Regions from separate parts of the Homo sapiens genome. Here region 1 is linked to region 2. A link means that fine-mapping ties the variant in region 2 to the expression of a gene that starts in the linked region. Tissue or cell type: blood mononuclear cells. Region 2 holds a variant in brackets; the other region holds the start of a gene. All regions are shown on one strand. Distances are between the middles of the regions.

The links. PIP is the estimated chance that this variant, and not a neighbour inherited with it, causes the effect.
Region 1: it holds the start of WDR82, and the variant in region 2 is fine-mapped to the expression of WDR82 in blood mononuclear cells (TOPMed, PIP 0.97).

What each region holds. Positions count from the first base shown.
Region 1 is chr3:52,274,225-52,282,400 of GRCh38, forward strand. WDR82 (WD repeat domain 82) reads right to left here and starts at 4,425. Exons shown (of 9, transcript NM_025222.4): 1 at 3,977-4,425. The coding sequence starts at 4,137. LOC107986086 (a long non-coding RNA gene) reads right to left here. Exons shown (of 3, transcript XR_001740699.2): 3 at 8,094-8,176. RefSeq lists enhancers at 3,152-3,784, 3,288-3,337, 3,358-3,437, 3,848-3,947, 4,417-5,048 and silencers at 4,138-4,217, 4,398-4,687.
Region 2 is chr3:52,302,732-52,310,907 of GRCh38, forward strand. No RefSeq gene overlaps it. Among named protein-coding and RNA genes, the nearest start is that of DNAH1, 9.5 kb to the right of the region's middle. RefSeq lists an enhancer at 7,888-8,176. The variant GGGGCTGGATA/G (reference allele first, on the strand shown) is at 3,889.

The DNA of each region.
Region 1 (8,176 bases), 29 kb before region 2:
AGCCATTTTCAAACTCCCAAATTCTAACACTAGGGTCATCTAATAAAGATACTATGCCTTCGGCCGGTCACAGTAGCTAACACCTGTAATCCCAGCACTTTGGGAGGCCTAGGTGAGAGGATCGCTTGAGTTCAGGAGTTTGAGACCAGCCTGGGCAACCTGGTGAGAACTTGTCTCCACTAAAAATAAAAATAGCCAAGTAAGTTGGCGAGTGCTTGTAGGCCCAACTACTTTGGAGATTGAGGTGGGAAGATCACTTGAGCCCAGAAGATGAAGGCTTTAGTGAACTATAAGCATGCTATTGCACTCCAGCCTGAGCAACAGGGGAAGACCTTTGTCTTAACAACAAACAAACAAAAAAACAAAACAAAACAAAACAAAAAAACAGGGCCGGGTGCGGAGGCTCACATATGTAATCCCAGCACTCTGGGAGGCCGAGGAGACCGAGGTGGGCAGATCACTTGAGGTAAGATGTTGAGACCAACATGGCCAACATTGTGAAACCCCATTTCTACTAAAAATACAAAAATTAGCAGGCACACTGATGGGTGCCTGTAATCCCAGCTACTCGGGAGGCTGAGGCACGAGAATCGCTTGAATCCAGCAGCGAGGTTGCAGCAGTGAGCCAAGATTACGCCACTGCACTCCAGCCTAGGAAAGAGTGAGGCAGTCTCAAAAACAAAACAAAACAAAACAAACAAACAAACAAAAAGAAAGGCCGGGCGCAGTGGCTCATGCCTGCAATCCCAGCACTTTGGGAGGCCGAGGCGGCGGATCACCTGAGGTCGGGAATTCGAGACCAGCCTGACCAACATGGAGAAATCCCGCATCTACTAAAAATACAAAATTAGCCAGGTGTGGTGGCGCATGCCTGTAATCCCAGCTACTCAGGAGGCTGAGGCAGGAGAATCGCTTGAACTCGGGAGGCGGAGGTTGCAGTGAGCCGAGATGGAGCCACTGCACTCCAGCCTGGGCAACAAGAGCGAAAGTCCCTATCAAAAAAATAAATAAATAAAAGATACAATACCATGCCTTCCCAAGGAAATACTTCTTTTCTTCTGAGGTCGGTTTGACCTATACTAGTGACAAAATTTTTCATCATATTATTGCCTAGAATGGAAACTAAAGAGGTTGTCTAATACCCAAAGAAGTAATCTGACCAATGTCACATACCTAGTCACAGGCCAAACTAGTACCCAGTTCCCTCCTAACTACCAGGCCACTCCTTCACCACAGATAATGAAACAAGGTTACAATTAATTGATCAGAGAAAACTCAAGAGCATGCCCTGTAGTATTGTATCAGTACTAAATTTCCTAATTTGGATAACTGTGCTCTGGTTACATAAGAATGTCTTTGTGCTTAGAAAATCCACGTTGAGCCGGGCGCAGTGGCTCATGCCTGGAATCCCAGCACTTTGGGAGGCTGAGGCGGGTAGATCACGAGATCAGGAGTTCAAGACCAGCCTGACCAACATGGTGAAACCCTGCCTCTACTAAAGATACAAAAATTAGCCAGGCATGGTGGCATGCACCTGTAATCCCAGCTACTCAGGAGGCTGAGGCAGGAGAATCGCTTGAACCCAGGAGCCGGAGGTTGCAGTGAGCCAAGATCACGCCACTGCACTCCAGCCTGGGCGACTGAGCGAGACTCCATCTCAAAAAAGAAAGAAAATCCATGTTGAAGTGTTTAGGGATAAAGGGGCTTGATACCTCCAACTCTAAAGGTGGGGGGAGGCACACAGTACATATAAATATTTACCTACAGTCATGAAGCAAATGCAGAAAATGTAACCAGTTATTGAATCATATGGGAGTTCTTTGAAACACTGTAACTTTGTTAGTTTCTAATTATGTAAAAATGCTACGAGTAAATAAACTGCCTTATGTCACAAAACTAGCATTTTACTTTTAACAAGACAGGATTTGGCCAGGCACAGCAGCTCATGCCTATAATCCTAGCACTTTGGAAGGCCAAGGCGGGTGGATCACTTGAGGTCAGGAGTTCAAGACCAGTCTGGTCAACATGGTGAAACCCCATCTCTACTAAAAATACAAAAGTTAGGGTATGGTGGCAGGCGCCTGTAATCCCAGCTATTTGTGAGGGTGAGGCAGGAGAATCGCTTGAACCCGGGAGGCAGAGGTTGCAGTGAGCCAAGATCGCGCCACTACACTCCAGCCTGGGCGACGGAGAGAGACTCCGTCCCCCACCCGAAAAAAAAAAACAAAAAAAAGAAAGACAGGACTTCATGTCAAGGTCATCCTTCCCAAATCAAAATTACGCCAAATTTGGGGACAAACTGCAAAGAAATGCTATAACAACCTTCATTTCCTTTAAATGAGGATATACATCTCCACCCTCAGGTTCTGGGAAGAGGTTCTAATCTGTGCATAAGCACTATACATTTCATGCAAGCCAGCTTCAAATTACTCCTCCAGGACCCCACAATGCTGACCCTACTACCACACCTTTAAATGTTACTTCGTCTTCTAAACTGATTCAAGTGACCAGACCAGGACAGAAATCCATCTACTCAATGAGTAACACTGACTCAAATAACTATTTGTCCAGCTAACAATTCCCTCTTCCTTAAGACCACCACTGCAGACCACTCTGCCACAAACTGCAGGCAGATCCAGAGCCGGTTACATAATACTTTCTCACAGCCCCAGTGGGGAAAAAAACTGGGGGGATACCATTATAGCTCAGTCCAAACTAGCATTACTTCAGATAATCAAATTCACAAATGAAGAGATATGTTCCAAAAGAAGGACACCAGTCTAAAAAAAAAAAAAGGAAAAAGGAACAGCTGGAGAAGGTGGAGAAAAACCCAAGATCTCAAATAATAATAATAATAATAATAATAATAATAATAATATCTGTTACTAGGTGACAAAATCAAGTCTGAAAAAACCAGGGTCCACCGAATTAAACCAAACATCAGCAAGCCTTCTTGGGGAAGGTGGCTAAGGGTAAAACGAATTTAATCTAAACTAGTTTTTGGCTCCAAGGAGCTGCAAGTCCACAGGCGTGCGGTGAGGAGGGCTGACAAGGACCCCCAGGGAAAAAGGCAAAGTGCTGTGCTTAGATTTTGCGAAAAGATGCAGGTATGGTGGGTCTCCAGATGACTTGTGGCAACATAAAAGTTTCATGATCAGAATTGGAATTCAAAGTGGACCAAAAAGTGTAATAGAAAAAAAAAAGTATGAAAGGAAACCTGAAATTGTTCTACGATGCTTGCTTTGTTTTAACGGAAGCTCACATTCAGGTCAGGATGGGACGACCAAGTTCGTTTGTGTGTGGCAAAAAGGAAGTTTTAGATGTTGCTGAAAAGTTCACTTATGAACGTGGGCACCAAGTCTGAATGAGTAAGAGAAAGGCTAGGAGCAGGAAGAAAAAGCAAGGGGGCTCAAAGGGGCACAACAAATAAATCCTGACAGCTAAGAAGTGCAACCCACGCGGTCTGACGGCAGAAAGGCCGCGGGAAGCTGAGGGGCAGGGGATGGGCGGAGTGCCAGGGCGGAATCGAGGTCACAGTGGAGAGAGCACAAGAGAGAGCTGACGCTGCCGAAGGAGGCAGAAAAGCAGCCCCTGCAGTCCTGCGTCGAGGCCGGAGCAGACCAGCACCTTTGACAGCCTGAGGAGCTGAAAACGCTACCTGGTGGGCCCAGGGTGGGCGGACCGGGCGTTTAAAGGTCAAGGTCAAGGTGGGGTTTGGCAAGTGATGCATAGCGCTCAAAGGAGACCGAAGACATACAAATAATATTATAAAATTATGACTATCGTTATCTTTTTTTTTTAAGAAGAAAAAAATAAAAGGTCTCCTGGACGGCTGCGGGGTGGAGGCGGCCCTGGCAGGAACGCGTGCAAAATAGGCTGGGGGCTGAAGTCGGGACGGAGGGCAGGCCGAGGGACCTGTGCTGGGCCACCGGAGGGAGGCACTGAGACTCGGGCCCAGGGCCTCCGCCGCACTCACTTGCCCTCCTGGCAGTCATAGAGCACGATGGAGTCGTCGTCGCTACTCGAGATGACCGTCTCGCCGTTGGGGCTGAAATCGAAGCAGTTAATCTTGTCCGAGTTTTCGCGGAACACCTTAGCGACGCGGAAGCTCCGCAACACGCTGTCGGTCAGCTTCATGGCGGCGGCTGGGGAAGGCAGCGGCGGCGCAGGGCCGGGGCGGGGCCCGGCGGCGAGCGGGCGGGCTGCCGAGGGGCCAACCCAGGCGGGGCGGGCGCCGCGCCGGCGGCTAGCGGGAAGTCGGCCAACAGTTGGGCCGCCTCCTCCTCTTCTTCCTGCTTGGTCGAGGGTCTTCTGCCTGGACTGTGGAGCCTCGCCGACCGTTCGTCCTCACAGCCACCTCACGGACAACCGGCGCGTCGCCGGCTCATTGTGTCCGCCATTTTGGGGCGACAGGCAGAAGCTGAGGGCGAGGAGCCTCAGCCGCGGCGCACGCCGGGAAAGGGGGCGGGGCGGGAACGGCGGAGCAAGGCGGGGAGGCGGGGTGGTGACGTCAGCGCGGCCGCGGCGGAGTGTAGTGGCGGGGCGGGCTGCTGGCAGGGAGCGGCCGAGACGTGCAGGGCCTTCCCGGGGGATCGGAAGGTTGCGGATGCCTTGGGAGCCGGGGGCCCTTGCGCGGGATTGCAACCCCCGCGAAGACTCTGGCGCCTCCTGCAGGCGTCCCGATCGCAGGCTGCGTGGGAGGGGGTACTGCAGGGTCGGGTATGCTGCTGGAGGCCGGTTTTGGGGGTGACTCAGGTGAGCCGCTCGCAGGCAAGCTTGACCGCTAGTCCACCGCAGCGTCCGCTTAGACAGCTTCGACCTCTTTACTTTTTTTTTTTTTTTTGGAGATGGAGTCTCTCGCTCAGGCGCGCGCCACCACGCCCAGCTAATTTTGTATTTTTGGTAGAGACGGGGGTTCACCATGTTGGCCAGGCTGGTCTCGAACTCCTGACCTCACCCGCACCCGGCCTCGTTTTCTTAATCGAGGTAGACTTTAGGTACAGTAAAAATCAGCCTTTTTAGGCCGGGCGCGGTGGCTCACGCCTTTAAACCCACCACTTTGGGAGGCCGAGGCGGGATGATCGCTTGAGCTCAGGAGTTGAGACCAGCCTGGCCAACATGACAAAACCCCACCTCTACTAAAATACAAAAAATTAGCCGGGCATGATGGCGCGGCTGAGGCACGAGAATTGAGAAAGGCGGAGGCTGCAGTGCGCCGAAATCGTGCCACTGCATTCCAGGCTGGGCGACAGAGCAGACGGTTTCCCCCCAAAAATTAGCCTTTTTAGTGGCTAGTTTTATGTTCTGACACCCATACACAGTCATGCAGTCACCACCACATTCAAGATTTGGAAGAGTTGCACTATCCTGTTTGTAGTCAACAGGATTATTTTAAAGGTTCTATCATATAAGTGATTATTTGCCTTAAAAGAAAGTTTATCTCTAACAAAGGAAAGCAGTATTTGAACAGAAAATAGGAACCAAGCTTCCTAACCTTAACTTTCTGGGCAAGGGGTTAAACTCAATGCCAACCTATGTGGCTTCACAGATCTGTATCTTGTGTGAAGCTCCTCAAAAGGTTAATTGCCTGGGGTTTCCAACAATGAAGATGGGGATTATTTATTTTTGCTTTCTTTAGCTAAAGAGAAACAAAAACGAGGAAAGGCTGTGAGACATTTCAGTCGCTATTAGGAAGGTTATTATCCAGAGACCTGTGCAATGGTAAAAAACAAAATGGAAACCCTGGGACAGTTGGGGTCTTTCTAGAAAGAACTAGAGGCTGTATCCCAACCCCCTGGGTAAAAGGAGAGCCAGGATCCTTATACATAAAGAGAAGTTGTTCTCTAAGGGAAGAGGCAAGTTCCTGGCTAAGTCTGGGGTATAATTGCCTCCTGACAAAGAGCAGAGCTTCTGGCTACAATTTGTTCTGGGGTCTGGAAAAAGCCGGTTTGAGTGAAACCTGAATAGATGGCAACTTTCCAAACTGCACACAATGGAAGAAAAACCCTCCACGTCCCAGATCACTTGCTCTGCTTCCCTGTAATTCCTGTGCCTTTATTTCAGAAGCTAGAAAGTCTGATACAGCGTCTGCTTCGAATAGTTTAGAAGGCAACAAGGACAGATCGAGTACCATGTTCTAGAACTGTCGGGAAGTGAACACACCCAGTAAGATGATGCCATATTTTGGTCCATGTTAATCTACAAAAATAACCACAGAAACAGCTGTAATCTACTGAATGTTGCCAGCCAAAATAAATCTTTGCAGGGTATTTTTCAAGTATTGTACTTCCTATACCTTTTCCAGATTTCACCGTTAAGACCAAACCTTCCTCCCAAGACTTGACTTTCTGCATTATTTTTGGAATGCAGTCTTTTTTTTTTTCCCCCATTTTTAAGAGGGTCTTCAAATCCTCATCCTGTTTCGCATTCTTACTGTTTCCAATTCCTAGCCTGGCTCCCTGCCCTATTATAGTGGGGCTCTCCTGGCTTCCAGCCCAACAGTATGGTTGCCTTAAAGGATGGACTTTAGGCCAGGTGCGGTGGCACTTTGGGAGGCCGAGGTGGGTAGATCACAAGGTCGGGAGTTCAAAACCAGCCTGGCCAAAATGGTGAAACCCTGTCTCTATTAAAAATACAAAAATTAGCTGGGCACAGTGGCGGGCACCTGTAATCCCAGCTACTTGGGAGGCTGAGGCAGGAGAATCGCTTGAATCCGGGAGGCAGAGGTTGTAGTGAGCCGAGATCACACCACTGCACTGGGCATTAGAGCAAGACTCCGTCTCAAAAAAAAAAAAAAAATGGACTTTAAAAAGTGACACAGAAAGCCGGCTCCAGTGGATGGGTGGATGGAGAGAAAGCTGCAGTCAAGAGTGAATCAGATGGGCTTTAAAAGAGCATCAGACTTAATTTTTTATGTTTCCTTTTATTTGTAGTCATTCTTTTACTTGTCACATATTCATTGCAAAAAAACTAAAAAATACAAATAATAAAAACAGCATCCAGAGATAGCCACTGTTACAATCTTTTATTATAGTGAAATATATATAACACGAAATTTACCATTTTGATGTAGAACCTTTCCGATTTTTTCATATACATATATATATATATATATATTTTTTTTTTTTTTTTTTTTTTTTTTTTCCTGCTCTGTCACCCAGACTGGAGTGCAGTGGCGTGCTCTCAGCTCACTGTAACCTCCATGTCCTGGGTTCAAGTGATTCTCCTGCCTCAGCCTCCTATAGATGCCCGCCACCACGCCCAGCTAATTTTGTATTTTTAGTACAGACGAGGTTTTATCATGTTGGCCTGGCTGGTCTTGAACTGCTGACCTCAGGTGATCTGCCTGCCTCACCATCCCAAAGTGCTGGGATTACAGGCATGAGCCACCACACCCAGCCAATCCCTGAAATATATTTTTATTGGGTTCATAATATATTGTTTGTAAGTTTACCCATACTATGAACATATTCCAGGTCAATAAATATCGATACAATCATTTTGAATGGCTACAAACTATTCTATTATATGGCTGTAAAGTAATTTTGCTTCCCATTTTGTCCAGAGCCCAGCCAGAGCTCAGTATGGATTAATTGAATAAATGAATTTATCCAAAGGATTCCAGATACTTGATTGGCCCACTTATTAAATTTTTCTATTTCATGCTGCACAATTGGAATGGAAACTGTCCTAAACAATGTGTCCTCTTTCCAAAACACAGAGCTCCTTATGAATTCTAATTCTTTGAGATAAATTTCTGAGCTCCAGTGCCCAGCAGCAGGGCTTCCCTAGAGATTGACTAACGTCTTACTCAACCCTTGGAATAACTAGAATCAGGTGACTCTCTTCTTTGGGACAGTTGCATGTGTGTAAGTGTGACAGTGTGTGTGTGTATCAGTGCTTACACAGCCCTCGGAATAACTAGAATCAGGTGACTCTCTTCTTTGGGACAGTTGAGTGTGTGTGTGTGTGAGCTTAATTGCCAAAGAGGAAACGCAGAACACTAGAACACAAAATGCCTGGTGAGGTGTCTGAGCCCCAGCACCAGGAAGTGGTCGCCTCACAGGTTGGCAAAAAATTTACTGACAACAGTATAGGTTTGAAAAAGGAAAATTTCTTAGAAAGAAAGAACGCTGCAGAAGAGTGCAGCGGGGCACCCCAGCGAGAGGACTGAGGG
Region 2 (8,176 bases):
ACGCCCACTGGATGACCCCAGGGAGGGGCGGGCCCCCACCCTCCTCTATTACCTCCAGCCCACCCAAGTGAAGCCCAGGGGACACCAGTGCCCATCCCCCTGAAGAGATTTCAGCCAATTAGCACGTACAGTATTTACTTAATTAGGGTAATGACATAATTAGTGTAACTCGGGCTCCATCACATGGCTTCAACATGCAATTAGGAGCTGTCAGCGGGAGGCGACATTGTGAGAGCGCTCATTCAATTTTGGTTCCAGCATGGAGGCCTAGCAGCTGCCTCTGCTTGGAGGGAGGGAGATGGGTGGATGGTGGCGGCTGCTGTGTGTGTGAGGTGACTGCAGGCAGCCCATAGCCTAGGAGAGAAGAGTAAGTGGGGACAGAAAGGCAGTTTCCTGGGCTAATGGAGTCCCTGACTGAGCCTACTCACATCCTCAACAGACATTGCCACCCTTGACCCCAGCCCCAGGGCAAGGCAGAGGCGGTGGCTTGGCTGGAGTGTCTGCGATTAGGGGGCTGAGCACTGCAGGCTCCTCTGCCCCCAAGTTCTCTGCCTGAAATGCCACCATTAGCAGGCTGTCTTGTCTCTCTTTAGGGCTTTGCTGTTCATAAGAGCCACCATCTGATACCCACTGGCCAGTAGGCTATTCTTCGTGGCCCCAGGAGGCCACAGACTGGCAGGACTGGGATGATCCCTGTTATCCTCATTGGATTCATGGGGAAAGTGGGGCTTAGGTCAAGGAAGGTGGTAGAGCCAGTCATGGCAGTGCCAACCCCAAGAGGGAGCCTGTTATGGCTGGAGACTCCCCAAGCCTGGGCATATTCCCCCTCACCCCCAAGGAGGTCTCCTGCCCAATGGCCTCTTTCCCTTGGAAGGAGTGGGGCTGCCTTTGGAGTTACTGAGGTGGTCCCCAGGCTCCTGGCTCCCTCAGCCTTTCCTCCACCTTATACAGGGCTAGGAGGCAGAGCCCTGACTCTGTCCACAGCCTTCCCCTCGGTGAACCTCAGCGAACCTCACAGCTTTCTTGAGTGGGGGCCATTGTGGGGAGGAAGGGAAGAAAGGAAGATGGGAGTCAGTGCCACCATTGTGCGGGTAGGGAAACTGAGGCTCCAGGGCCTTCAAGGAGGTGCTGTTAGAACCGATATCAGCCCCTAGCAACCCTACTTCTGGCCCAGCAGGATGACCTGGGCTGAACTTCTCCCTTGGGTCTGTTTCCTCTTGTCAAAGGAGAGAGTTTACACTGCATGATCTCAGACATCCTGGGCCTATCCAGAGCCCCCTGGGAGGTGGGACCCAAGGAACTTGCCATCCCTCTTCCCTCCTTCCAGATTATGTCCTCAGAGCTGTCCCTTCCCTTTGTGACCTGCCCCTTTCTGGGTTAGCCCCATTGCATAAATGAAACAGATGAAGGTCCCTGGCTGCAGAGAAGGGAATCCATTTCCTAGGCCCTGTGATCTCACTTGATCCCTGTGCTCAGCCTGCAGTGCTGGAACCACAGCCTTCTTAGAGGCTAGACTGGTGTTTAAAACCCCTCAACTCCCTGCTTCCACCTCAATAGCAATTCAGGTGAAGTCACCAATGCTAGGTTTACAACGCACTTCATGCTTCCATCTCATGGGCGTCACCTACATCCTGCTAAATGACAACAATGTCTCTGCCTCTTAGGTGGATAAACCAAGGCAGCAAGACCCAGTAAAGGACAGCACCAAGTCCCAAACCCCGGCTTTGGTCCTTGCAGGTTAGTGACTCCCCTCACACTGAGCGTCCTCAAGTCTGTCCTGCCCTGACCGCATGGCTCTAGATCTAGGATCCAGGGTGGGAGGGGCTCTGATGAGACCAGGGTTCAGCCAGCTGGGAATACTGCTGGTAAGATCGGGTACCACTGAGTGGGAAGGTCTGGGATGACACCCAGAGTCCAGGCCTTCTAGATGGGAGACAGAGATTCTCCAGTTCAGAAGGGCAGAGGGTCTAGCCTGGACAAAGGGAATTGCCAGTCAGAACTGTCTCCAGGGGCCTAGCCCCTCAGGCAGGGCACAGGTGGGGTGGGCGCACAGATGGCTGGTGGGCAGCTCTGGTTACAGGCAATAGTCACAACAAGACTAAAATCCCCTTATTTCTATGAACGCTGGGGCATAAGCTGTGAGATGGCACAGTGAAGATCCACTGGCAGAGGCCAGTGCTGCCAGGAGGAGAGAGGAGCCCACTCTCACCTCTCAGAGGAGGTGGGGGCTGTGGCCAGAGGGCCAGAAGGTCCTGAGCACCAAGCCATCTGGCCTGGTGCCCCTGGACTTTTCAGCCTCAGGAAAGAGGCCCTTTCAAGCCAAGGAGGTGAGGACTAGCACAGGAGGGGAGCCTGAGGCCAAGGAAGAAATGGCATAGCCATAGTCATAGGGGAATGCTGGCTGGTGGGAGGATCCTGAATTGTCTGTGTTAGGACTGGTCCTCCTGGGGCTGGGTAGAGCTGGAGGCAGCCTCTCTTCACTTGGGCTAGCTGCCTAGGCTCATACTCAGACCTGGCCACATCCTCAGCCCTGAGATGGGACCTACAGCTGGGGGACCTCATGTACCTACCCACCCTCCTTCCTTCATCAAATGTTTGCTATGTGCTGACTCTAGGCCAGCCACCTTGGGATTGGCTACTGGGGCAGGAATGGGGAGCAATGAGCAGGCAGAGATGAAGGCCAGCACCTCCAGAGGCTCATGTCCTTAGAGTCCAGACAGACACAGGCCCAAGGAGTTCTCTCCAAAGAGTAGGCAGAGATAAATCTCAGGAAGAGCCAAGGCCAAGGGCCAAGTCAAGCTCACTAGTTCAAACAGGTGGTGGTCCCCACCCACTCCCTCACTGGTCAGAAGTCTGGGGGCAGGCCAGATTTCCGTTGGCAAATGATAGGAAAAGGGCATTCCAGGTGGTTGGACCGTGTGAGCAGAGGCTGGGGGCCAGGACGTAGGATTCAAGAATACTATGCTCTGGCCTGAGGTATTTGGGTGGGCTCTGGGCAGCTCAAGGAAGGGGCTGGGGACTCTAATCACTTGTGAAAAAGTCAAGGCATTCCTCTAACACCCATTTAGCAAAAAGTTCCTACAGTGTGCCAGGCATGTGGTTTATAGGTTGGGGATTCAGTAGGGATCAAAACAGATGACGTTCAAGGGAGACAGAGACACAGCATTTTCAGATGCTAACAGGTACCACGGAGAAGATTCTAACATGGTGATCTAGGAGGCGATCTAACAGGGCTAGGGCCTAGGAGGAGACTTTAGGGCGTGGGGCCAGAGAAGGCTGCAATGATGTTTAAGCCAAGATCTGAGTGATCCAAAGGTCAGGGGGAAGAGCATTCCAGGCAGAAGGAGTAGGCAGTGTAGAGGCCCTGAGGCCTGTGAGGTCCTGAAGGGCAGCCCACGTCAATGGGGCAAGGAGAAGGGAAAGGAGGTGGATGGGACCAGCGAGGCAGGTGGGGCTCTGTCGGTTGGGCTAAGGCCTGTGGACTTTATTCTAAGTGCCATGGGAAGTCATTGGATTTTGAACTAGGGAGTGGTTTTTTCCCTTAAATCACTGTGACAGCCTCATGGAGACCAGATTGTGGAGGCTCCATGAAGACCAAGGGAGACACTGTCGAGATGAGAGAGGATGGTGGCCAGGATTGGGTGCTTGCTGGGAGGTGGTGGGAAGCTGGCATTTGGGGATGTTATTTGGAGGCAGAGCCAACAGGACTTCAGGAAGGGTTGGCTGTAGGGTGTGAGAGAGGGTTGTCCAGGGCAGTTCTTCAGTTTCTGGCTTAAGCACATGAGCAAATGGCATGGCCATTTTCAGAAGAGGGGGATGCTGGGAAAAGCAGACCAGGGAGAGGGAAATCAAGGGTTCTGGGTTGTCTGTGTTAGGACTGGGACTCCT[GGGGCTGGATA/G]GGGCTGGAGGTGCCAAGGGAAACAGTTGTCAGATATAAGCCTAGAGTTCCAGAGAGGGGGTTGCCCCAGAGATTGATCCATCTTTAGCATAGAGATGTATTTTGCTTACACAAGGGACAGGGTACCCCTCCAGCCCCAGGAACCCAGAGATTCAAATGAGCCATTGATCTGGAGCCATTGATCAATGAGCCATTGATCTGGAGGCCCCAGCAGGGTCAAGGCCAGCAGGGGCCAGCAGGGAAGGACCCTGCTCTTGAAGCCTCCCCCATATCTGTCTAGTGAACCAAGACCACCTCACCCCACCCCAAAGCTAGAGAAGTTGATGATGTAAACTTGGCTTTCAGGAGCCAAGGCCCAACTGGGGGTGGAAGGTGCTGCCGTAGGGACCCTGGAGGCCAGCTGTCTAAGTGATCCTCTGCTTATCCTAGCCTGGCCTGGCCTGGTGTGAAAGAGTCTAGACTCCACCCTGACAGGACCCCGTCATGGCTTAAAGTGCTCCTTCAAAGGGCCTGAGAGCCATTCACGTCCATTGCCACCAGTTAGCTGTGTGTCCTCAGGCAAGCCCTTCATCTCTCTGTGCCTTCCCATTATAGGCAGTTGGAAGAGTAACTCTCTGAGCCCATGTCCTCCCCTGTCAGAGGTCTGTGAATGCAAAAGCTAGCCAGGTCATGCCTGTTACACCCCCAACTGAGCAAAGTGTGGCTTCAGCCCCAGCTCAGACGGGGCAGTGGGAATGATGGGAGGCTGGAGCTGGGTGGGCTGCTGTTCTTGCAGCGTGGCCCGTGGCCCCTGCCTCACCCATCCTCCTGTGATTCTCAGCTCTTTGGGGCCCGCCCCAGGCAGACAGGCATCACCTCCTGAGTGTCTCTTCTTCAGGGAGAGGAGGTGGTTGCCACCGCCACCGCCAAAGCCATCCTCCGGGTCCTGTGCTCCTCCATGCCAAGCACATTAGGGGATAATTAAGTAAAAATAGGCATTCCGACCAGTGTAGCTCATTAAGGCCTAATTAAGTTAATTAGTTCCAGGTGTGGATGGCGAGGCTCAAGTGAGGCGGCGGCTGTTGTTTGCTGTAATTGCATTTTCGCAGCAGCAGTGATGGTGACAGTAATGGTGTGGCAGAGACAGCGGCTTTCTCTGAGGCCTGGAAGCCCGCCAGGAAGTTCAGGAGGCTGTCGCTGAGCTGGGAGGGGTACGAGGAAGCCAGGGGCCACACAGAGAGAGTGGTGACTGGAGGTTCAAGGTCTCCCAGGCCCAGGGAGGCCCTGCTCCGTCTCTGTGTGGGGGAGGTTTTGTGTATATGTGTGTGTGTGTGTGTGTGTGTGTGTGTGTGTGTGCACAAAGCCACAAAGAGGCATCTTCCCCTCTGGTTGAGTAGGGGAGGTGCACTGTGGCTGGTCTTTTGGCCTTGGGCTCAGTTCCCTCACACCCCATCACAGTCCCCAGGAAAGACTTTAAAGTGACTTTGCTAAAAGGGAATCTGTGGGCCAGAGGGAGTGGGAAAGACCTCTAGGAATCTGCCTCACTCACTCTATTTGGCTTGAATCCCCCATTCCTGTCCCTTCTGGCAGGTGCATGGATCTTAAGCTGTCGCCTCTTTGTGATTCAGGGCAGGAGTGGGGGCTACGCAAGTCCAGGCCTCCACAGAGGACCTGTTGGCTCAGTTAGTCTCCTGACCCAAACGTCTCCCTCAGTCCACTTTCTGTCATGGCTTCTGGACTCAGCTGTCCTTGGGGACCTGCCTGTGTGGGACAGCCCTCTCAGCCTCAGTCACACTCACATTCATACATTCATGCTTGCATGCATTCAGCTGTTGCTCACTGAACATCTCCTCTGTGCCAGGCAGCAGGACCAGGGGATGGGAATATAGGCTGGGCAAGACAGGTTGGACTCTGTCCCATGGCACCTTTGGTCTCTCCAAGGAGGCAGACATGTTAATGACTCTGGCCACACAATTTTGCCATGGCTGTGGGCACCTAGGGGTGTTTAACCCAGTCCTGGGAGGAAAGATGTCCAATCTGCAGTGAATGTGATGCAGGAGACAGGGGGACAGGGTGTGTGTCAGGAACTGAAAGGGCTTCCCTCTGGCTGGAGGACAGCATGAGGGCACTGAGTGGGGAGAGTGGGGCCAGATCAGGGAGGACTGTGGGGCTGCTGGGTAGAAAATGAACTGGCACTGGTGACTGGGAGGCGAGGGAGGAGGTGGCCAGGGCTGCATCTGTGGATCCAGAGAGGAGTGGATAGATTTGAGGGATATTTAGGAGGAGAACCGATGGGGCTTGCTGCACTGGTTGGGTGTAAGGGATGGGGTAGGAGGAGGCTGTCAGCCTTGCAGAGAGGGGCCTTGGGAGTGGGGTTGGGCTCTGAGATGTCCCCACAGGCTGGGACTAGGATGAGACAAGGGAAGTGCCTGGGGTGAAAAATTGGGGGAATTCGCTACCAGCCTTGTGTTCCCCCTTGTGCCTCTCTCAGGTGTCCTGAAATTTCTCGCTAAGAAAGACACATCTTGGAAAGTGGAAGCCGCCCCTGGAGATGGGACAATGGGGGCATAGTTCTCAGCAGGGTGTGCCCCCTGGGCACTTCAACCCCTACCTGGGAGGTGCTGTCTTCTCTATACCTTCCAGCACTGGGCTGGGGCCAGGATTGACACCTTAGGGCTCATTTGCTCCTGATAGGTACTCTCTTTCCATTCAGGTGTCCAAATGACAGGAAAGGTGCCCATTCAGCTTCCCCTGTCATGCCTCCCATGACAGGGAGCTCCTGCCATCTGGGCAGCCCAGTCCTTTGGTTGGGACCATTATAAAAATATTGTATCATGAGCCCAAATCTGTCTTCTTCCAACAGTTGACTCAGCCCTGCCTCCTACCCTCCCCTACTACCCAGGCCAAGTCTGCCAATCCCCTTTCCCCGACCAGCTTCACCTCTCAGAGTCTCAGTGTCCCCACCTGCAAAAAGGGAAACAGTAATAGCTACCCCCTTCTAGGATTGGTGTGAGGATTAAATGACATGTGTATAAACCTCATGGCATATGCTAACTTTTCTATTTTATTTTTCAGAGACAGGGTCTAACTGTGTTGCCCAGGCTGGAGTGCAGTGGCATGATCATGGTTCCCTGCAGCCTTGACCTCCTGGGCTCAAGCGATCCTCCCACCTTAGCCTCCCAAATAGCTGGGACTACAGGCATACGCATGTCACCATGCCCAGCTAATTTTAAAAAATTTTTTGTAGAGATGGGGGTCTTGCCATGTTGCCTAGGCTGGCCTCAAACTCCTGGGCTCAAACAGTCTTCCTACCTTGCCTCAAACTCCTGGACTCAACAGTCCTCCTACCTTGGCTTCCCAAAGTGCTGGGATTACAGGTATGAGCCATCACACCTGGCCACATGCTAATTGCTTAGTAACTGGTTCCTAACCCATAGTAAGGATGAATAGCTGCAGAGGTGGACGCTGTGCTCCTTCTGGCTTGGGCTGCCCAGTCATACAGTCTTGTACCACTGGTACATCAATGGTACCCATCTGTTGGCCCCAGGTAGCTGACCCTGCCACCACCCCACTCACATCCGGTGTAGATGGAGAGCTAATCGCAGAGAAGAATGTCCATGGGGAAGAAGTGACATTTTCTTGGGATGGCAAAGCCACAATGACGTGCAGGGTCTGCCCGGCTGGTTATTGAATCAGTTCTCTGCTCAGCCCCAGCCCCTCCCCTCTGGTCCCCCTGCTCCTCAAGTCTCTCATTCAGGGGTACGAGTGGACCTGCCATGCCTGTGAAATGGCCCTGGTGGTGGGAGTCCCTCCTGAGCCTGAGGGCCCCGCTGAGCCCCAGATCCCTTGGAGGGTAGCAGACCCTTTAGAAACGCATCATTGTCTGGGGTGCCCATACTTTTCCCACAAGGCTGCAGGGTGTTGAGGCTGGGGCGAGGGGCTTGCAGGAACCCCTGGCTTCCCTCAAAGATCAGAAGAACCACCCAAGAAAGGACAAAGCCATCCCACTGCCTTTTCCCATGCGTTCCCATCCCAGAGCCTCTGTCTGCAGCAACAAAACTGGCTTCTGCAGTGCTCTCTGCTTCTTCTGTTTCTCTGTTGAAAACCAGCGCTTGTGTCAAGGAGGAATTCTTTAGATTTAAAGGACAGTGGTGACCATCCTCCCCGAGCCCTGGTCACCGGGGACCACCAGGTTCCTGTTGGAGGACAGAGGGCACCACAGGGGAAGGCAACAACAGGGGCAAAGGAATGCCCAGAGCATGGGCAGGGCAGCCATTCAGGCAATGCCGTGTCATGTGG